Linked DNA regions of Homo sapiens: region 1 is linked to region 2. Evidence: fine-mapped expression QTL. Tissue or cell type: macrophages. Region 2 holds a variant in brackets; the other region holds the start of a gene. All regions are shown on one strand. Distances are between the middles of the regions.

What was found. PIP is the estimated chance that this variant, and not a neighbour inherited with it, causes the effect.
Region 1: it holds the start of CC2D1B, and the variant in region 2 is fine-mapped to the expression of CC2D1B in macrophages (Nedelec 2016, PIP 0.91).

The regions. Positions count from the first base shown.
Region 1 is chr1:52,361,496-52,369,495 of GRCh38, reverse strand. CC2D1B (coiled-coil and C2 domain containing 1B) reads left to right here and starts at 3,291. Exons shown (of 25, transcript NM_001330585.2): 1 at 3,291-3,427; 2 at 4,862-4,944; 3 at 6,750-6,894; 4 at 7,880-7,983. The coding sequence starts at 4,876. It also overlaps the pseudogene PLA2G12AP1. RefSeq lists silencers at 690-769, 830-929, 2,912-3,541, 3,582-3,691 and an enhancer at 1,050-1,099.
Region 2 is chr1:52,144,197-52,152,459 of GRCh38, reverse strand. All of the region lies in intron 1 of ZFYVE9 (zinc finger FYVE-type containing 9), which reads right to left. All of the region lies in intron 4 of LOC107984956 (collagen alpha-2(I) chain-like), which reads right to left. It also overlaps the pseudogene RN7SL788P. Among named protein-coding and RNA genes, the nearest start is that of ZFYVE9, 6.2 kb to the right of the region's middle. RefSeq lists an enhancer at 4,066-4,599. The variant AAAAAAAAAAAAAAT/T (reference allele first, on the strand shown) is at 3,499.

The sequences.
Region 1 (8,000 bases), 220 kb before region 2:
ACTATGTATTGCTTAAGGATACCTACACAGAAATAGAAATGCTCAGGAATAATAAACACTAAATTTAGGATAATGGGTACATCTTTGGGAAAGGGAGGTGTTGCAATATGGGAGATGTACAGGTAGCTCCAACTATGTTTGTTTTTCTTTTTTCACAAAAATCAGATAGTTTTATGTTGTAAAAACATTAGTTATTTGTCAAAGGTTATGTTCTTCCGTCTTCATCTGTCACCAGCTGTCAGCATCTCCTTTAAATATCGGTTTTTTCTTCATAATGACACCTGCATGTGGCTCGTTGGCTGTCCAGATATGGTTTACAACCTAAATGTATAACACTGTCAAACAAGAGCTCCATTGTTGTTTCACATGCCTGAACATGCTAAGTTAGTCCTAGTGTTTTCTGTACTTCTCGGCAGATCTTGGAGAGGCAATACTGGAATTTCTCATCACAGTCATTCTTGCTTTTGCCACAGTTCTCATAGCACCTGTCGTGTTAGTTGCAACACTTTGTCAGGGAAGGGATACCAATGTTAAGATGAACGCCAAACAGTGGAGAGCCACATCCATTCGGTGGGGAGGGTTTATAACCATAACGTGGGAAAGGCTTAGATCCGTCACTGCATTTATACTGGCAGAGACCGTCCTCGCCTCCCAGGAGGTCCAAGGCGGCGTTCAGGTACGTGTCTATCTTATGAACGCCGTTCCGGATGGTCTTCAGGGTGGCCCTCCAGTCGGTGGTCTAGGCCTGCTCCAGGCACCTGATAACAGCGGCCATGAGGAGGAGCAGGAGGGTGAGCGCGGGGCGCGGGAGAAGGGCCAACCGCGCAGCGCCGGGCTCTACGGGTCCCCGAGCCGCGGCGGGGGGCGCGTCCCCAAAGAGCCCCCGGGAAGCGCTAGGCAGCGGCGCGGGCCCCGGGGTTGCAGCCGCCAGCTCCATAACCACGCCTCCTTCCCGGCTGGCAGGCAGGGCCTCGCTGGCTTTACGTGAACCGCCTCGGGGAGGCAGCGCGGTCGCGGGGACGCGCCCGCTCACCTGCTTTTTTTTTTCCCTTAAACTGGTAATAGATGTCCATGTAGTTAATTCACACAACAAGGAACTATTGAGTGCCTACTATGTACCATGCACTGCTGTAGACACGAGACACTTGGAGAAGCAATAAAAAAATTTCTCCTTCTGGAGCTTGCATTCTAGTAAATGTTAAATATTGTGTATCTTTGTTTATATCTTAAATGTTTCATTATAAAAATTTTTAAATAATTTTAAAAGGAATGAGAAATATGGATGTGAAATCTCAATTTAAATATGGTAATGGGCAGGGCATGGTGGCTCACGCCTGTAATCCCAGCACTTTGGGAGGCTGATGTGGGTTGATCCCCTGAGCTCAGGAGTTTGAGATCAGCCTGGGCACATAGCAAAAACATGTTTCTACAAAAAAAAAAAAAAAAATGCTGGGCATGGTGGCACGTGCCTGTGGTCCCAGCTACTCAAGAGGCTGAGGTGAGAGGATTGCTTGAGCCTGGGAGGTGCAGGTTGCAGTGAGTGGAGATCGCACCACTGCACTCTAGCCTGGGTGACAGAATGAGATCCTGTCTCAAAAAAAAAAAAAAGAAAAAAAGTAAGCAATCAGGAGATGGAAAAGCCCTTTGTCCAAGTAAACTGGGAGATCGCTAACTAGAAAACATAATTTAAAAGTTCAAGGCATAGGCAGGAGAGGAGATGGCAATGTTTTAGACAGAAGAAACTAATCCAGCAGTTTAACTTTAAAATACATTTTAAAACTTTTTTTCCTTTCTCTTGGGTTTCAAGATACAACCTTGAAGCAAACTGCAAAAGCCTTTTCCCTTAGCTGTAAAATAGACCCCATATCCCTCCCTTTCTCACTGTATATACTCCCTTCACATTTATCTTACTGTATGCTAGTATTTAATTATCTGCCTTCTGAGAAGTTCCAAGGGCTAATCTTGAGACAGACAAACCAAGCCTGGAGACACAGCTGCAAAATTCCAAAGATTACTTCAAGGTGGCTAGTCAACAGCGGGGCCATTGTGGAGATGAGACCAGCCCACGCTCCAGGTAGGCTGGGACCCAAGATAGCCACCAGAACAAGACACACAGACGTTGTACTCTGTACAATTCTTGCATGCTTCCCATATCAAATTTTCCTTTTAAGCCGTTCTCTTTCCCCCCAAAATCGAAGTGGTTACTTTAGATGGGAATCTGGCCACTTCCCCATTACTCCGCTCTCGGTTTTTTTGTTTGTTTTAGTTTGAGACAGGGTCTCACCTTGTCACCCGGGTTGGAGTGCAGTTGACAGCTCATTGCAGCTTGGACCTCCGGGGCCACAGCGATTCTCCTGCCTCGGCCTCTCAGTAGGTAGGACTACAGGCACGCACCACCACACCCGGCTAATATTTGTAATTTTTTGTAGAGACAGGGTTTCGCCATGTTGCCCAGGCTGGTCTCGGACTCCTGAGCTCAATCTCTTGTTAACTGGACTCTGCAAGCCGCAGGGAGAAACGTGCTTTCCTTAGAAAACTAGACTAGAGCATATTTACTGATGCTAAAGAGGTTGGTTTTGTATTTCCCTGGGCAAATAATTCTCTCTGAGCCTCCGTTTCTTCTAGAGATGATGTCCATCTTGCAGGATTGAGAACTGGTATAAGCTCCATTATGAAAAGTGACTGACACAAGCTTGGCAGAAAACGGGTATACTCCGTTTCTCTCCTTAATATCCTCCATGCCATTTGATTGCACAGCAGGGTAGGCGAGTGAGAACTTAGTGTTAGACTCTGTAAAGTATTTAAGATGTGCAGCGAGCTCTGCCTGTCTGAAGTTTTCAACGGACCGGAAAAGGATACTTTCAGGTGCTGAATTATTAAGAAACATATGGTGGGCCCCATTTCCATTTCCCCAGGCTTAAAGGACATGGACAAGCAGGTGAGCCCCGCCCCTGTCTCTCTTCCAGGGCGGAGCTTGGGTAGGCCCCGCCCTCTTGCTCGGTGGGGCGGGGCGAGGGCTGGAGGCGGGGTAGGTCCAGCGAGCGAGCGAGCGCCCAGCGCCTCGGGCTGAGTGAGGGAGGAGGTTCGGTGGAGAGGCTGCAAGTGGGCGAGGGCTGGGCGCAGCGACCTCATTGGAGCCGGCCGGTGGACGCCCCGGCGGAACCGCCCAGAGTTCCTGTCCTGCGCTACCTACCCGAACGCGCCTGCGCGCTGCGAACCCCGCCCCGGTGTCACCTGTTGGAGCCCCCCGCCCGCGTAGCCGTGCACATGCGCACTGCCGGCCGCCGGCCAGTGGGGTCACGTGTTGCGCGCGAGCCACCTCCCCTGCTGGCGCTTCCTGTCGCTACCGCTGCGGCCCAGGGCCCGCGGGAGCCCAGGGCGGTGCCGGGTGAGACAAGGCCGGGGTTTGGCTCGGATTCACCGCGAGGTATGCCGCGTCCCCGCCCCTCGGCGTGGGGAGTTCTGGGGACCGCGGGGGTAGATGGAGGCGGCGCGGGCGGGGCAGGGCGGCGCGTCCCGCAGCGCGGGAGTGGGGGTCCCGTGTCGCCTCCCCCTACGGACTCCGTTGCCCACCTTCCGTGAGGCCTGGCTGTGTCATCGGGGCCGCAGCCTTGGAGTGTCTGGCCTCGCTTTCACCTGAGCCGGAGTCACTCCCGAAATCTGACACTCAGAGTCCCCCGGAGCGCCCGCCAGCTCCTCCGCCCGCTCCCCGCCGCCTCCACGCCCGTCAGCTGGTCTCCCCGCCAGCGCTGTGGCGAGATGCGCCGGCTTCCTGCCTTTTCCCCCTACCTTCTGTGCACCTCCCCTTTGGTGCCAGAATGGGGTTTCTGAAACACCGATACGATCCCGCCACTTCTTTCCCAGCGCCCTCAGAATAATGCCCAAACGCTTTTCGGCTTAGAGGTTTTCATATTCTGCCGCTTGCTCACATTTCCACCTCGGCTTGTGCATTCAGGCCTCACCGCTTATGCCCCAGTCATACCAGGCCTCAGGTTCCATTGTACAGGCCAAGCTGCTCCCCACTTCAGAGCCGTCAAGTGTTCCCTCGTCTTGGAATCCTATTTCCCTCTTTCCCCCAACTTCTTTGCGTGACTCAGCTCAGGCGTCACCGCCTCGAAGGAGGAGCCTTTTCTCCCAGGGCTGAAGAAGGGGTCACCTCAGGGCACCCATGGCCCCTGGGGCAACCCCGTGTAGTCCACCTCCACCCTGTAAATGGTCATTGAAGGCTGAGACCGTCTTAGGTTCATTTCTGCGCTCCCAGTGCCCAGCGCAAGGTCTGACACAGGAGGTCCTGTGAATAACTGTGAGATCTTTATGGGAATCAGAATGCTGAGCCAGCTTTCTCCAGAGCTCAGCTGTGAGATGGAACTTTGATGACATGTCCTTGGATGATGAAAATGTTCTGTGTGTGTGCTGTCTGGTCATAGCCCCTCACCACATATGGCTGTTAAGCACTTGGAATGTGTCTGTTGTGGCTGATGGACTGGATTTTTAGCTTTATTTCATTTTAATTCATTGAAATTTAAAATTAAATAGCCAGCTGTGGCTTCCATAAGCACAGCTTTAGAGCCTTTCTGAATTCTACCCAGCCTTCCACCCACCCTGAACCTAGAGTACTTCCCTGAATGTGCTTTTTAAATTTGAGTCCGTTCAGAACATTCCTCAGTAAACCCATTAACAGGTGATCCCCATCCCTCCCATGGCCTGTGCTGCTTCAGTGCTTTAATTAAAGGTAACCCATACTTTGGTGTTCAGCATTGCCTTCTTTGGGAGTTTACTATCCACACCTTACCACGGGTAGCACTGTTGGGGGCGTGGCTTATGGGCTACTCCAGCCTGAATCTCTGTAACTCTTCCATAGGTATCTAGGCTGCCATGATGCCAGGGCCAAGACCTCGGAAGGGCCCTCAGGCCAGAGGCCAAGGGGTGGCCGCTGCCAAGCAGGTATGGAACTTAGCCTTCTAGGCTACTGGGTCGGTTTGGGGATGGGGGTCCCTAGACAACTTAGGCAAACTGGATCACATGTAGTTCCCCCATTAGTTCAGAGACTTGGAGCAGTGCCTCCTGGAGGTGGCAGAGCCCTTAGACACCCTCCTACTAGTCTCTTCCACATACAAGTGGGGAGAGGGTTCAGGAATCACCAAAGTTTAGGATGTTCTGATGGGACCTCAGTGCTCTCAAAGGTTCCTTAGATAGGGTCACAACTTTGCTTGTTAGCCAGGGATGCCAGGGCATGAGGGCTGTAGTCAGTGGGAGGACTTCACTGCCTAGGGACAGATGGCTGTGCCCCAAGTGGAAGAACAGGGGGGTCTCCTCTCCAATTTTCTTCCTTTATTTCTTCTGGGCCTACATCTTGAGACTTCTTAGTCCATTTTTACTGTCTTTAAAAAGGCAGGTAAGAAAGGAGGTGGGGTAAAGGGCATAGACTCAAGTCGCAAAGAGCTTGTTTTAAATTCTGATTGTCTCACAAGACTGTCTCAGTTTCATCTGAACATTGGGATAAAAACAGAATGTAAGCTGGGTGCCGTGGATCACGCCTGTAATCCCAGCACTTTGGGAGGCCGAGGTGGGTGGATCACCTGAGGTCAGGAGTTTGAGACCAGCCTGGCCAACATAGTGAAACCCCATCTCTACTAAAAATACAAAAATTAGCTGGGCGTGGTGGCATGTGCCTGTATTCCCAGCTTCTTGGGAGGCTGAGGCAGGAGAATCGCTTAGACCCGGGAGGCAGAGGTTGCAGTGAGCCAAGATAGTGCCACTGCACTCTAGCCTGGGCGACAGAGCCAGACTCTGTCTCAGAAAAAAAAAAAAAAAAGGATGTACCTCTACCTAGAGTAGTCATATTCATGGAAACAGAAGAATGGTGCTTACCAGAGGCTGGAAGGAGGGGAGGAAGGGGGGTTAATGTTTAATGGGTAGAAAGTTTGTTTCACAACATGAAAACAGTTCTGTGGATGGATGATGGCGATGGTAGCAGGATATTGTGAATGTCCTTATGCCATTGAACTCACCCTTAACAGTGGTTAAGATGGTAAATTTCATGTTGTATGTGTTTTACCAGAGTTTAAAAAAATAGGACCTTCTTTTTTTTTTTTTTTTTTGAGACGGAGTCTCGCTGTGTCGCCCAGGCTGGAGTGCAGTGGCGCCATCTTGGCTCACTGCAAGCTCCATCTCCCGGGTTCACGCCATTCTCCTGCCTCAGCCTCCCGAGTAGCTGGGACTACAGGCGCCCGCCACCGCGCCCGGCTAATTTTTTGCATTTTTTAGTAGAGACGGGGTTTCACCGTGTTAGCCAGGATGGTCTCCATCTCCTGACCTCGTGATCCACCCGCCTCGGCCTCCCAAAGTGCTGGGATTACAGGCGTGAGCCACCGCGCCTGGCCAAAAAATAGGACCTTCTTCTCAGAATTGTGAGAATTAACTGAGGTGGTTAAGATAATCACATAGAACGCTAAGAACAGTGCATGATGGCAGCTATTGCTGTTGGTTGTAATAATGGTAGTGTGTTTTAAATTCTGACTCACAAGACTGTCTCAGTTTCAGTGTGGTCTTACTGGGTTTTTTGTTGAGTCCCTAGGAAGGTAAGTGTCTCAAGGAGTAATGTTGCAGGCCTCAGTTTCTTTCTGCACATTGGGCCTCACAGACTGAAGGAGCCACTGATTGGGACTTGGAGAGCCCCAAGTCTGGCTCTGGAGCTGGACCCTACCCTGCTTGTTGTGTGGTTCCTAAGAGTCCTGCTCTGCTCTCAGATGGGGCTCTTTATGGAGTTTGGCCCTGAGGACATGCTGCTGGGCATGGATGAGGCTGAAGATGATGAGGACCTGGAGGCTGAGCTGCTGGCTCTCACAGGGGAAGCACAAACCACAGGCAAGAAGCCAGCACCCAAGGGGCAGGGTGAGTTTGGACACAGGGCTGGTCTTGGTGCTGGGACAAGATGGGCACAGGCTGGTGGTAGAGGGGTTCCCTTGCAGCTGGACGGAGCCAGCCAGATCCCCTGGTCCTTCCAATACCCATCTGCCGCACTCCCACCAAGAGGCGGCCTCGCCCTGCTTCCCCACCTTGTGTCATGGCCTGGGCTGGCCCCTCCCCATTGTGGACAAATGTGTTTCTCAGACTGACTCAGGTCCCCATCCTTAGCCCTAGCCACGGTATTGGTGTAGGGTAGGGGCCCAGTTAGCACAGACTGAACTGGGTACATAGGAAGTACATAGAAATTGTGTCCAGCGAGTTAAGTGGAATCTCCCTCCACAGCCCAGATGAGAACAGAGACTTCAGGCCTGGGAGGATCAGGAGGTCTAAATCGTCCTCTCTTTTCACCGGGAACCCTCAGAGAATCCCCCCACTCATCCCCCACCATCCTGTGTGTCCCTGAGTTGAGGATAATGGGAGGACCTAGGAAGGGGCTCACTGCTCCTGCCTTGGGGTGGCACAAGCCTAGGTTTGAATCCTAGCTCTGCCACTTAAGGATTGCAGTGATAGGAAAATTAATGTTGGAAGTTTCTCAGTTTATTCAATATATGAAAAGGGGATATTATCCATCTTGCAGATTTGTTTTGAAGCTCTGTTGGACTTTGAAAATCTTTACAGATGTGAAAGGTGTTGTTGGAGGTTGGAGAGAGTGGATGGCCATGTCTATGTCAGGCTACCGTAGGCAGAGGTGCAGAGAAAGGAGCAGCTTGTTGCTTGGTGGGGGGCCAAGGAAGGTTTCCCTGTTGAGGGTCTTTTGAACTGGGTCTTAAAGGAAGAGCAGTTTTCCAGGTGGGACTCTGCTGTGGGAGGGAAGAGGGATTTCTGCCTGGGTGGATCTACCAAGCCCCTCCTTTACTCATCCCTGAACTTATCTGAGTTGTGCTGACTTGTTGTGACCTTTTTCCCCCAGCCCCCCTGCCCATGGCCCACATCGAGAAGTTGGCGGCAGACTGTATGCGGGATGTGGAGGAGGAGGAGGAGGAGGAAGGGCTGGAGGAAGATGCAGAGCTGCTGGTGTGTCTGCCAGGCTG
Region 2 (8,263 bases):
ACCTTCAGGAAGTAATCAGGGCCTATCATCTGAGAGTTCAAAGTCTCGGATACGGTGAGGGTGAGACTTTAAAAAACAGGTAAAAGTTGACCTACATCAGTAAAGGGTATTAATTACTAAGGCCTACGTGGAAAAAAGGGGTTCCACAACCAAATAAGTTTGGGTAATATAGCCAGGCACACTGGCTCATGCCTGTAATCCCAGTACTTTAGGAGGCTGAGGCAGGTGGATCATCTGAGGTCAGGAGTTCGAGATCAGCCTGGCCAACATGGTGAAATCCCATCTCTACTAAAAATACAAAAATTAGCCAGACATGGTGGTGCATGCCTGTAATCCCAGCTAATCAGGAGGCTGAGGCAGGAGAATTATTTGAACCTGGAAGGCGGAGGTTGCAGTTAACCAAGATGGTGCCACTGCACTCCAGCCTGGGTAACAAGAGCAAAACTCCATCTCAAAAAAAAAATTGGGGTAATACATAGCTGAACAAAGTTAAACAAGTTTCTTCCACTCCTCAGTCTTTAGAATACTAACGTGCATTTGCAAACTTCTACCTAAGGGATATATAGTAAGCTGAAAACCCAAACTTATTTGACTAAAGAACATCTCCTTGCTCCTAGGGAACATACTTTAGAAATCCTGGATGGGCTCAGAGAGGTGGCTCATGTCTCTAATCCCAGCACTTTGGGAGGCCGAGGCGGGTGGATCACTTGAGGTCAGGAGTTCCAGACCAGCCTGACCAACATGGTGAAACCTTGTCTCTACTAAAAATACAAAAAATTAGCCAGGTGTAGTGGTGGGTGCCTGTAGTCCCAGCTACTCGGGAGGCTGAGGCAGGAGAATTGCTTGAACCCGGGAGGCAGAGGTTGCAGTGAGCCGAGACCACACCACTGCACTCCAGCCTGGATGACAGAGCGAGACCCCATCTCAAAAAAAAAAAAAGAAAAAACACACATACACACACACATAGACACAGGACAAGATTCACAGGATGAAAAAAGAGTGTGGACTTTCTAGTCAGAGATATATGAGCTTGATATATAAGTTTGAATCATCAATGTGGGCTTAAGCTTAGGAAAATCAATAAAACTCTCCAAGCCTCAGTTCCCTCAGCTGTAAAATGCATAATAATATAATGACCTTATAATATCCTTAGTAAGAGTTACAAATAACATATGTGAAACACTTACCAGAAAGATGGCACACTACAGGGAAAGCTTTTATATTCCACAAAAAGTAATACAAGGTAAAAGAATCAAGGAAAACTCCATAAACCTGGAATCTTGGAAGAACAGGATGCAAAAACAGGAGGGAGGAATGATCAGCTTGGAACCAAATCATGAAGGCTGTATGCCAGGTTAAAGAATCTCAACCTTGCTTTTTAAACACTGAGCAGAAATTTCCATGAGTGACCTCACAATAACTTCAAAAATAATTTACCTCGGCTACTACTACTAAAAAAAAAAAAAAAAAGACAATTATCACCAGAATCACAAAAAGGCCTACATGATGTACTGTGAAGTTCAAGTTTCAAACTGGCAGTGTTTTATTTTAATTACCTTTTAGGGACTGTTTCTCCTGCTCAACTGAAAATGAAAAATGGAGATTAAAGTTTGTATAAATCCTGACAGGGTGTTTTTACAAAATTTTGACATTGCTTGTTCTATCTTTTCTTCTTTTTTTTTTTTTTTAAGACAGTATGTTCCCCTGTTGCCCAGGCTGGCGTGCAGTGGCGTGATCTCGGCTCACTGCACCTCCCCTCCGGGTTCCCAGGTTCAAGCGATTCTCCTGCCTCAGCCTCCTGAGTAACTGAGATTACAGGGGCCCAACGCCACGCCCAGCCAATTTTTGTATTTTTAGTAGAGACAGGGTTTCACAATGTTGGCCAGGCTGATCTTGAATTCCTGACCTCAAGCGATCCATCCACCTCGGCCTCCCAAAGCGTTGGGATTACAGGCATGAGCCACCGTGCCTGGCCCTATATATCTCATCTATCTAGCTATCTATCTAGCTATCATCTATCATCTATCTATCTATCTATTTAGAGATTAGGTCTCACTATGTTGCCCAGGCTGGAGTGGGGTGGCTATTCTCAGACATGATCCCACTACTGATCAGCATGGGAGTTTTGAGCTGCTCCATTCCCAGCCTGGGCCAGTTCACCCCTCCTTAGGCAACCTGGTGGTCTCCGACTTCCAGGAGGTCACCCCCTCTCAGGAGGTCACCATACTGATGCCAAACTTAGTGCAAACACTGATCAGCATAGCACACTACAGCCCAGAACTCCTGGGCTCAGGCAATCTTCCCGCCTCAGCCTCCCAAGTAACTGAGACTAGACGCACATGCCACCACACCAGTCAGTTTATTTTAGTAAAGAGAATTTTGAGATAGACTCTGTTGGGCTATGTAACATATAAAAATATGTACAATTTACTCTTTCTTCATTTTAATAAAATGAAATCTCACAGATAAACAGCAAACTTTAATCATGAAAGGTTAGAAAAGAACCAAACTATATTGCAAACAGAAATGCATATCTTTTCATTAATCCTACCAGAAAGGCTCCAGAACTACTGTTTTTGTAACTTTATACGGAAACTATATCATCCAAAGGAACTAAAAGATTGTATAATAAACCAGAACAAGCCTTTCAGCTTAAAATCACCACTACAGGCCGGGCAGTGGCTCACACCTGTAATCCCAGCACTTTGGGAGGCCAAAGCAGGTGGATCACGAGGTCAGGAGTTCAAGACCAGCCTGGCCAAGATAGTGAAACCCCGTCTCTACTAAAAATACAAAAATTAGCCACGCGTGGTGGCAGGGCATACCTTGAATGAGTAACCAAAACATCGGGTAATATTCTACATACAAGACAAACAATGACATTTGTATTTATATAAAATTATGTATCATTGAGAGGTAACGGCAATTCTTAAAATCTGTCATGCCTGACTGCCTAGAAATGTTAATATGAAACTAGACTGTAAATTTTTAGAAATGTTTCAGTAGAGTTAAAGAAAAACTAAACTCAGGCATTACAATTGCCTTTTCTTAAGAAATATTCATATTGCCCAGGCGCGGTGGCTCACGTCTGTAATCCCAGCACTCATTCAAGGTATTAAAGCCTTCCTATGAGGTTTTTTAGGACATAGTTCAAAGTCAGCAATAATTACTTGCTAATGTTTCTAAAGTTTTTTTTCAAACCAGTTAGGAAATACTACAGGGAACCATTGTTTGAGTAAACAAAGTGCAAGTTTTAGACCTTCATTCTACATGTTCAAGATCAGCCTGGTCAACACGGCAAAACCCCATCTCTACTCAAAATACAAAAATTAGCGGTGCATAGTGACAGGCGCCTGTAGTAACAGCTACTCGAGAGGCTGGGTCAGGAGAATTGTTTGAACTGGGAGGTGGAGGTTACAGTGAGCCAAGATCACACTACTGCACTCTAGCCTGGTTGACAGAGCGAGAGTCTATCTCAAAAAAAAAAAAAAAAAAAAA[AAAAAAAAAAAAAAT/T]CATGTTAAGGCTGGGAACAGTGGCTCATTCCTGTAATCCCAGCACTTTGGGAGGCCAAGGCAGGCAGATCACTTGAGGTCAGTTTGAGACCGGCCTGGCCAACATGGTGAAATCCCGTCGCTACTAAAATTACAAAACTTATCCAGGCATGGTGGCGCGCACCTGTAGTCCCCGCTACCAGGGAGGTTGAGGCAGGAGGATCGCTTGAATCTGGGAGACAGAGGTTGCAGTGAGCCAAGACTGCGCCACCGCACTCCAGCCTGGGCAACAGAGCAAGACTCCATCTCAAAAAAAAAAAAGAAAGAAATATTCATATTAATAGAAGACAGCCTTTTATACAGCTGAAGTCCTCACACCACCATTCCTATCACCACCCAATGTGGTTAATCAGTTCTATTAACCAGAGTTCACTGTTTACTAAACAGGAAACTAGAAAGTTTACAGCTTTTTTTGTTTTTGAGATGGAGTTTCGCTCTTCTTGCCCAGGCTGGAGTGCAATGGTGCAGTCTTGGCTCACTGCAACCTCCGCCTCCCTGGTTCAAGCAATTCTCCTGTCTCAGCCTCCCAAGTAGCTGGGATTACAGGTATCTGCCACCATATAGTGGTGATTTTGAACCGAAAGGCTTGTATTTTCAGGAGAGACAGAGTTTCACCATATTGGCCAGGCTGGTCTCGAACTCCTGACCTCAGGCGATCGGCCCACCTCAGCCTCCCAAAGTGCTGGGATTACAGGCGTGAGCCACAGCGCCTGGCCTACAACTTTTATCCTCAGGCCAAAAACATTCCCTATCATCAAAGAATCTGGCAATGCATCTGCAAGTAAAAGCTTCAACAATTTACCTAATGACTGTAAATAAAAGTTATTAACCAGGAGCATGGTGGCTCATGCCTGTAATCCCAGCACTTTGGGAGGCTGTGGGTGGATCATTTGAGGTTAGTAGCTCCAGACCAGCCTAGCCAACATAATGAAACCTCGCCTCTATTGAAAAAAAAAAAGTTATGAACCGCAGATAGAGCCTTACATTACCACTTCACACTCATTAGGATGGTTATAATCAAAAAAACAGATAACAAGTGTTGGTGAGGACGTGAAGAAATTGGAACCTTCATACAACGCAGGTGGGATTGTAAAAAGGTGCAGCTACTTTGTAAAAACAATCTGATAGTTTCTCGAAAGGTTAAACATACAGCTACCATTTGGCCCAGCAATTCCATCCCTATAAATACCCAAGAGAAATGAAAGCATATTTCCACACAATAATTTGCACATGAATGTTCACAACAACATTATTTATAGTAGCCAAAAAGTGGAAACAGCCCTAACTGATGAATAAAATGTGGTATTTCCATACAATGGAATATTATTCAGCAATAAAAAGAAATGAAGTACTGACACTTGCTACTGAACCCTAAAACTATTATGCTAAGTAAGAGAAACCAGTCATATATCGTATGATTCCACTTACATGAAATGTCTCGATAGGCAAATCCATAGAGGCAGAAAGTACATTAGCGGTTGCCTAGGGCTGGGAGGATTAGGGAGATCCTGGGAGTGACTGTTAATGGGTACAAGTTTCTCTTTGGAGTGATTAAAATGTTCTAAAATTAGACAGCAGTGATGTTTGCACAACTCTGTGAATATATAATACTGTTCTAACTTTTCCAGTTCCGTAAATGGGCTATTTACCATAATTTAAAAGAAAAATATAAGTATTAATTAATTTGTAAAATAGAAAATACTTTATGCGTTGAGTATCCCTTATCTAAAATACTTGGAACCAGAAGCATTTGGGACAGATTAGAATTCTGACGCAAGTCTAAACACAAAATTCATTTGTTTCATGTATACTTATACGCATAGCCTAAAGGTAACTTTATACACTATTTTTAATAATTTTGTACATGAAACAAAGTTTTGACCATTTTGATTGTGACCCATCACATGAGATCAGGCGTGGAATTTTTCCACTTGTGAGATCATGTCAGTGCTCAAAAAGTTTTGGACCTTTGAGCATTTCGAATTTCAGACTTTTGGATTAGGGATGCTCAACCTGTAAAAACAGCACTTTTCAAATTATTTTATTAAATAAATTTTACCATTATAAAATATAAGGTATTCTACTACATAACTAAATGCTAATTCTACTGACACCTTGGTTCCTCCTTAATTTAGCAATCTCTAATACTTCAAAATTAGATTATGCTGATTTTACTTATTAATAGTAAACTACATAAATAATTAACAATCTTTCAACCTCTTTTTTTCAAAACTCAGAGAAATATATTTTCCAATTCCAGAGTCCGGATTTACCAGGACTCATGGGACTGAACTATAGCTCTGATTTACCCATTATATCATTTAATACTTACAATAATCCTGTAAGGTGACTATTATCAGTTGCATTTTATAGAAAAGAAAATTGAGACTTAAAGAGGGTAACAAACTTGTCCAAGGTTATAAGAAAAGACTGGCAGGCTATAAAATCTAGTTCTAGCCTACTGTAGTTTATAAGGAAAAATCTATGTTCTGAAAACAGTTCTTAAGTAAATTTAATAAATTGAGAGTTTTTTGAAAACTAAATATATGAACTATTTCTATTCAGTGCCTGCAACTACATCTTTTCCAATGATTATTATATACAGTTGTCTCTCTGTATCTGTGGAGGACTGGTTCCAGGAACCCACAGGATACCACAATCTGTGGATGCTCAAATCCCTTATATAAAATGGCACAGTATTTGCATATAACCTATGAACATCCTCCTGTATACTTTAAATAATCTCTAGACTACTTACAATGCCAAATACAATTGTAAGTGCTATGCAAATCAACTGTTATACTGTATTGGGTTTTTATTTGTATTATTTTTATTATTGTATGATTACTTTTGTGTGTGTGTGTGTGTGTGTGTGTGTGTGGATATTTTTGAGCCTTGGCTGGGAGGACCCACAGATACAGAGATCTGACTGTACTAAGAATGTTGCTCTATATAATGCAGGTCAAGTATACACAAGTAAAATTAAAGATCAATGTAAAACTCTGAAAATAAATAATTTGCAACAAGTGTACCCTATATAAAGGGAATACTAATTTATTGGCTAAAAATGAAATGGAAAACATACTAAAATCGAAATTGTTTTCCATAAAAAATTCCAAATCCCAAAAGTAGACTTAGTCTAAAAAAAATAAAGCAACCAAGTTTTAAGTCATGCAGAAATCCCAATGCCTGATTTTTGTTTTTCCCAAAAGGAAGAAAGAAATGTACATTTATTGAGCACCTCCTACATGACAAACACTGAGCTAATTGCTTTCGGTTACTTTTATCTCATGGAACCTGTTCTACTTTGCTAGGAGGGGTAGTGTTACCCCAATAGTACATAAGAAACTCAGAATCTAAATGTCACATCGCTTTAAGAGGTGTAGTAAGGATTCCTGCTCACATCTGACTCCATACTCTGTACCACATTATGCAATTAACAACCATAAAACACACATATATACGCCATATCTTTAGGAACATAAGAACTTAAGCTAAAATCCAGGCAATTATCTTTTAAACAAGCTTTGTGCCTTGCAACCAGTCTGTGGCTAGCACGTTTACAAGGTGCCACATAAAAGTTTACTGAATGGAATGAACAGTGGTAGCTTAGCAACAGAGGAAGGAATTATCATCTCTACTCACTCTACCTTTCTAAAAGAGTTAATAGGAAACTATCACCAGGCAATATAAGCAATTATTTCCTTAAAGAAAACACTGAATCAGGAATTGGAAGAGAAAGGAATAATCATACATAAAAAGTATTATCAATGTCCTTAAACGGCAAGATGAGACACAGAAGCCTTAAACAGAGATTTAGCACGTTCCACTCAATTTCAACACTTGTCTGACCTACCTTGTAACAGTTAATTAAAGGTATCCTGCTTCCACAGGACAAGTTTAGTAGAGCCCTTGGTCATTTTTGTGTTTCCTGGAATACCTATAACAGGACCTGGCACTTAAAAGCCAAAATTGTATAAAAATCTTTTACAGATTATAATACCTTTTCAGATTTATTTATCCTAAAAGCCTCGCAAGGTAAGCATAATAACTGAAGTATATGCATTTTACAGACAATGACATTGGTGTCCATTAAGTGCCAAAGTAAATGACAAGGTATTCTTTTAGCACACCACAGCTATCACAGGAGGCTCTCAATAAATGGTTGCTGATTGGATCAGCTGTCCCTCAAAATATCACTTTTCTTTCTAAGATTATTTACTACGAAAAATGACATCCTTTGAGCTGGAGCTGCAAGGAAGTAAAAAAAAAAAAAAAAGAAAGAAATGACTATTGCCACTAAAGACTTATAGTTTTGCTAGAAAATAGACACCTTCCTTCGGCTCAGCAAGGTTAGTTAATTTTAAACTTACTGTATCAGTGATTCTCAAACTTTAGTAGGTCTAAGAATCAGGGAGACTGATAAAAATAAAGTTCTTTGGGCCATCGTCATCCCTAGAATTTCAATTCAAGGGACCAAGAATCTGCATATTACATATAATACTTATATATATAACAAGCACTCTCAACTGATTCTAATGTTGGTGGTCTTGAGGGACACACTGAGAACTGTATTCAACTTTTTTTTTTTGAGATGGAGTCTCGCTCTGTTGCCCAGGCTAGAGTCAGTGGCCCAATCTTGGCTCACTGCAACGTCTGCCTCCCAGGTTCAAATGATTCTTGTGCCTCAGCCTCCCGAGTAGCTGGGGCTA